Linked DNA regions of Homo sapiens: region 2 is linked to region 1. Evidence: fine-mapped expression QTL. A gene starts in region 1. The other region holds a variant in brackets. All regions are shown on one strand. Distances are from middle to middle. Region 1 holds the start of CACNG6 (calcium voltage-gated channel auxiliary subunit gamma 6). Region 2 overlaps CACNG6 (calcium voltage-gated channel auxiliary subunit gamma 6).

What was found. PIP is the estimated chance that this variant, and not a neighbour inherited with it, causes the effect. A credible set is the group of variants that fine-mapping cannot tell apart.
Region 2: its variant is the best candidate, but not a certain one, in a credible set for the expression of CACNG6 in whole blood (INTERVAL, PIP 0.68).

What each region holds. Positions count from the first base shown.
Region 1 is chr19:53,990,312-53,993,090 of GRCh38, forward strand. CACNG6 (calcium voltage-gated channel auxiliary subunit gamma 6) reads left to right here and starts at 1,326. Exons shown (of 4, transcript NM_145814.2): 1 at 1,326-2,779. The coding sequence starts at 2,567.
Region 2 is chr19:54,011,780-54,014,558 of GRCh38, forward strand. CACNG6 (calcium voltage-gated channel auxiliary subunit gamma 6) reads left to right here. Exons shown (of 4, transcript NM_145814.2): 4 at 172-887. The coding sequence ends at 410. Among named protein-coding and RNA genes, the nearest start is that of CACNG6, 22 kb to the left of the region's middle. The variant ATTT/A (reference allele first, on the strand shown) is at 1,234.

The DNA of each region.
Region 1 (2,779 bases):
GGGTTCTGGCCCCAGTCTCCTCCCTGAGGCCCAGGACTCTGGGTCTGCCAACGCCTTGACCAGGAGTCCAGGCTCCCCGGCCCTCCTCCTCCCTCAGACCCAGGAGTCCAGGCCCAGCCCCTCCTCCCTCAGATCCAGGAGTCCAGGCCCCCTGCCCCCTCCTCCCTCAGACCCAGGAGTCCAGGCCCAGGCCTTCCTCCCTCAGACCCAGGAGCCCAGGCCCCCAGCCCCTCCTCCCTCAGACCCAGGAGCCCAGGCCCCCAGCCCCTCCTCCCTCAGACCCAGGAGCCCAGGCCCCCAGCCCCTCCTCCCTCAGACCCAGGAGTCCAGGCCCCCAGCCCCTCCTCCTTCAGACCCAGGAGTTCAGGCCCCAGTCCCTCCTCCCTCAGACCCAGAAGTCCAGGCCCCCAGCCCCTCCTCCCTCAGACTCAGGAGCCCAGGCCCCCAGCCCCTCCTCCCTCAGACCCAGGAGTCCAGGCCCCAGCCCCTCCTCCCTCAGACCCAGGAGTCCAGACCCCCAGCCCCTCCTCCCTCAGACCCAGGAGCCCAGGCCCCCAACCCCTCCTCCCTCAGACCCAGGAGTCCAGGCCCCCAGCCCCTCCTCCCTCAGACCCAGGAGTCCAGGCCCCCAGCCCCTCCTCCTTCAGACCCAGGAGTTCAGGCCCCAGTCCCTCCTCCCTCAGACCCAGAAGTCCAGGCCCCAGTCCCTCCTCCCTCAGACTCAGGAGCCCAGGCCCAGCCCCTCCTCCCTCAGACCCAGGAGTCCAGACCCCAGCCCCTCCTCCCTCAGACCCAGGAGTTCAGGCCCCCAGCCCCTCCTCCCTCAGACTCAGGAGCCCAGGACCTAGGAGACCAGGTTCCTCTCCTCTCAGATCCAAGATTCTGGGTACCCAGGCCTTCTTCCTCTACCACTCAGAAGTGGGGTACCGAGGCTTCTTCTCCCTTAGGGACCCAAGACTCCTGGCCTCAGGCCCTCCTCCCTGAGACCCGGGGCCCTGCCTCCCGCCCCTCCTCCCTGGTAACCCCAGTCAGACTTGCTGCCCCGCCCGTCTCCTGCTGCCCGGGAGACTGCGGAGCTGGGACTCTCGGCGCCGCTCTTGCCCCTTAGTGAAATGAAAGTCCCATCAGGCTCGGCCCCTTCCTCCCCGGGCGGCCTCCCTCCCCCCTTCCTCGTCCCCTTAAAACACCCGGGATCCCTATGGCAACAGGCGCCGGGCGACAGGTGCGGGTGTTATTTACGGGTCAAGCCCGAAATAGCCCCGAGGGTGGAGGGTGGAGGGTGGGGGGTGGGCGGGTGGGGACGAGGCCGGGCGCGGGCGGAGGCCAGGCCGGTGGCGGTGGCGGGCACAGCCGGACGCTTCGGAGGCAGCGCGGAGCTGGGGTCGGCGCGGGGCCGAGGCAGGAGAGCGAGAGGGGCCCCTGCTCGGGAGTCGGGGGTGGGAGCCCCGAGGGGGGGCCCTGGCCTGGGGCTGAGCCTGGCGCGAACCCGACCGGGAAGGCCCTGGGAGCCCGGGGGAGGGAGACGGACTGATCCCGAAGGGGCGCAGCGTCTCTTGCGGGTCGCGGTTGGCCTTTGAACCCTGGGGGGACTCAGTCCTGGTTTTCCGAGCCGCAGTGCGGACCACAGCCCCATAGTGTGAGCCCCAGGAGGGCCCCCGGTCCCATCTGCCCCAGCCCTCGGGGAGGCCCCGTAGCCTCCCGCCTCTGGACTCCACTCTGTCTTCCGGCCACCGGCCCCTTTTCCAGGCTCAGTAGAGACCTCGGATCTTTTCTGAATGGCAGGGGAGACCCCTATCCCCTTTTCCTGAATTCCAGCGAGGCCCAGTCCTCTTCTGAGCCCCAGCCAGGGCTCTGTTCTTCTCCTTCTGTGGATGCCGGGGTCCTACTGCCTCTCTTGAGACCCGGATTGAATTCCGACCTCCCCTTGGGAGCTTCCCGGGACCCCAGGTCTTCCTTTTCCGAATCCCAGAGGGTCCCCAAGTCCTCTGTTCTCAAACTCTGAGCCCAAGGGAACCCCGGCCACATCTCCTCCAAACACACACAGGACCTCAGGTCCCTTCCTGGGTACCCCAAACTCTTAGCCCTAGTGGGGTGCTCAGATCTCTCAGGAAAACCAGTTTCCCTTTTGTTAACCCCCCAGCGGGGACCCCAAAGCAGCCCCTTGGAGCTGCAGGGAGCTTCAGCGGGCACCAGTTCTCATTCCTCTGGAGCTCTTGGGGGGACTCCCTCCTGGGAAGCCGAATTCTATCTCTAAACCTCAGGGTGGGGGCCTTGTTTTTCCTCTGGGCCCCGTCTTCTTTGCCAAGTTCTTGAGGGCAACCTAGACCCTCCTCTGAACCCCAGAGGCTTCCCCAGCCCTGGGGATCATTTTTCTCTTCTGAACCCCAGAAGCAATCTCGACTTTCGCATTTGAGATTCCAGACAGGACTCGGCTCTCCCTCTTTCATACCCAGGGGAAACTGAGTCCCTCACCCCCTTCAAGACCCCAGGCCGCTCCTCGCTCCCGCCCCTCGAGGCCCTTCGCCGGCTCTGCCTCCTCCCCCTTCCCGACCCCACCGGCCATAAGATGATGTGGTCCAACTTCTTCCTGCAAGAGGAGAACCGGCGGCGGGGGGCCGCGGGCCGGCGGCGGGCGCACGGGCAGGGCAGGTCGGGGCTGACGCCCGAGCGCGAGGGGAAGGTGAAGCTGGCGCTGCTGCTGGCCGCCGTGGGCGCCACGCTGGCGGTGCTGTCCGTGGGCACCGAGTTCTGGGTGGAGCTCAACACCTACAAGGCCAAC
Region 2 (2,779 bases), 21 kb after region 1:
TCCAGCTTCCCAAATGCTGCCTGCTATATAGTAGGTGTTTAGTAAGTATTTGTTGAGTGCACGCGTGGGAAGGTGCCAGGGTGGGCGGGAGGGCTGGGAGCGGATGGCGGAGATGTTCAGACACAGCTGGGGTCGCGGGCGTCTGACTGCGAGCTGTCCTCTCTCCCGCAGGCCTGCTGCTCTTGGTGAGCCTGGAGGTGTTCCGGCATTCCGTGAGGGCCCTGCTGCAGAGAGTCAGCCCGGAGCCTCCCCCGGCCCCACGCCTCACCTACGAGTACTCCTGGTCCCTGGGCTGCGGCGTGGGGGCCGGCCTGATCCTGCTGTTGGGGGCCGGCTGCTTTCTGCTGCTCACACTGCCTTCCTGGCCCTGGGGGTCCCTCTGTCCCAAGCGGGGGCACCGGGCCACCTAGAGCCACGCGTGAGACTTCTCTAAGCAACCACCGAGCCCTTTGACCTTCTCCATTGTACCCCCAAGATCTTTTTGCCCCATCTCCTAGAGAAACTGTGTTCTCCCTGCTCGGGGGCCCATGTTTTTTTACACGCCTGCCTCCTGTCCCCTTATCCTTTCTCCCTCTGTAAATACGTTTTTCTCTGTGGCTGTATGTGGGTTGCTTGGGGGTGGGATGGGAAGAGGCTCTTTGCAAACGAGGGTCCCCAGAGAAGACTGGCGGGGACCTGATGGGGTAGCTGGGGTGTGGGGTTGGGGGATGAGGTCAGGGGGTCTTGGGTGGGAGTTGGGGGCCCCTTCATTTCCCAGGTCTGGATCGATTCACTTGCCGGGAGAGACTTTTTACAACTCATCTGCAGCTCCGGGTGCGGTTGGGGGAGATAGCGAAGGGTCTGGCCTCGCTGTGATCTGATTTGGGATTAAAGGTTTGGAAATTTAACAACTTTGCTTTGGAGTCTATTTGTGATGTGATCGTGCATTCTGGGGTAAAGAAAAGTGACCCCATATTCCCTCCAGAAACATACCCTCCAGAAACACTTTTAAGCCCAGAAGTCACATGAAAACGAACCCATACACAATGGTTGAGAGTGTGGAAAACACAATATATTTTTTATTTTTATTTTTATTTTGAGACGGAGTCTTGCTCTGTCTCCCAGGCTGGAGTGTAGTGCTGCAATCTTGGCTCACCGCAACCTCCGCCTCCTGGGCTCAAGTGATTCTCCTGCCTCAGCCTCGCAAGTAGCTGCGTTTACAGGCACGAGCCACCATGCCCAGCTAATTTTTGT[ATTT/A]TTTTTTTTTTTTTAGAAGAGACGGGGTTTTACCATGTTAACCAGGCTGGTCTCGAACTCCTGATCTCAAGTGATCCACCTGTCTCAGCCTCCCAAAGTGCTGGGATTACAGGCGTGAGCCACCGTACCCCACCCAGATTTCCCCTTTACACATGACTCCTGTCATACGTGATTAGGATTTACCCCCAATGACCTTATTTTAACTTGATTATCTCTGTAAAGACCGTATCTCCAAATGAGGTCACATTCTTAGGTACTGGGGGTTAGGGTCCAACATATATATATATATATACATTTTGTAGGGGAGAACATTCAACCATTAACAGTGTATATATTCTAAATTGTGTTTTCTGGTCGGGTGTGGCGGCTCACGCCTGTAATCCCAGCACTTTGGGATGCCAAGGCGGGTGGATCACCTGAGGTCAGGAGTTCAAGACCAGCCTGGCCAACACGGTGAACCCCCGTCTCTACTAAAAATACAAAAATTAGCTGGGTGTGGTGGCAGGCACCTGTAATCCCAGCTACTCGGGAGGCTGAGTCAGGAGAATTGCTTGAACCTGGGAGTTGGAGGTTGCAGTGAGCCGGGATCTCGCCACTGCACTCCAGCCTGGGTGACAGAGCAAGACTCCGTCTCAAAAAAAAAAAAAAAAAAAAAAAAAATCAAAAAGGTGGGGGGAAGGGGGATTGGTTCAGGAAAGCCTTCCGAAGAAGATGACGAACTTGAGTCTTCAAGGTGAGTAAGAATCAGAGAAAGTGGAGAACGTCACGGGCGTTCCAGCTGGGTGGGAGAGCCTGGACAGAAACAAGAGGAAAAACATGATGAACCTGTGAGTGAGGAAATGTGAACGCTGGTGTTCAGAGTGAGACACAGGAAACGTGAGAGGGTTGGGGTGGGCTGTCTTATGAACAAGGTGGAGAGACTCAGATGCTCAACAGAACAGCTTGGCCTTTACCCTGAGGGTACTGAGGAGCCATGGGAGCTTGCTGAGCAGAGACACACTGGCATCAGGTCAAGGGGTTGAAACAAGGTTTCTTATTCTTGAAGTCACTAAATTGCAGACCCGGAAGACAGACTAGTGGTTGCCAGGTGTTAAGAAAAGGGTGAGTCTTGGCCCCACGCGACGGCTCATGCCTGTAACTCCAGCACCTTGGGAGGTCGAGGCGGGTGGATCACCTGAGGTCAGGAGTTCGAGATCTGCCTGGCCAACATGGTGAAACCCTGTCTCTACTAAAAACAAACAAACAAACAAAACAAATCAACAACAACAAAACATACAAAAATTAGCTGGGTGTGGTGGCTCACATCTGTAATCCCAGCACCTTCGGAAATGCCTGTTCTAATTTAGGTCCATGGGCACAGGCCCTAGGGTAGAGCCCTTGCCAGAGACCCTGCCCTTCTCTACCCAGCAGTTCTCTGCCCCCCTCCCATATCAAAATGCTTTTTCTGCATCTATTGAGATGATCATGTGATTTTATTTTTATTTTTATTTTGCAGTCTCACTCTGTCGCCCAGGCTGGAGGGCAGTGGTGCGATCTCGGCTCA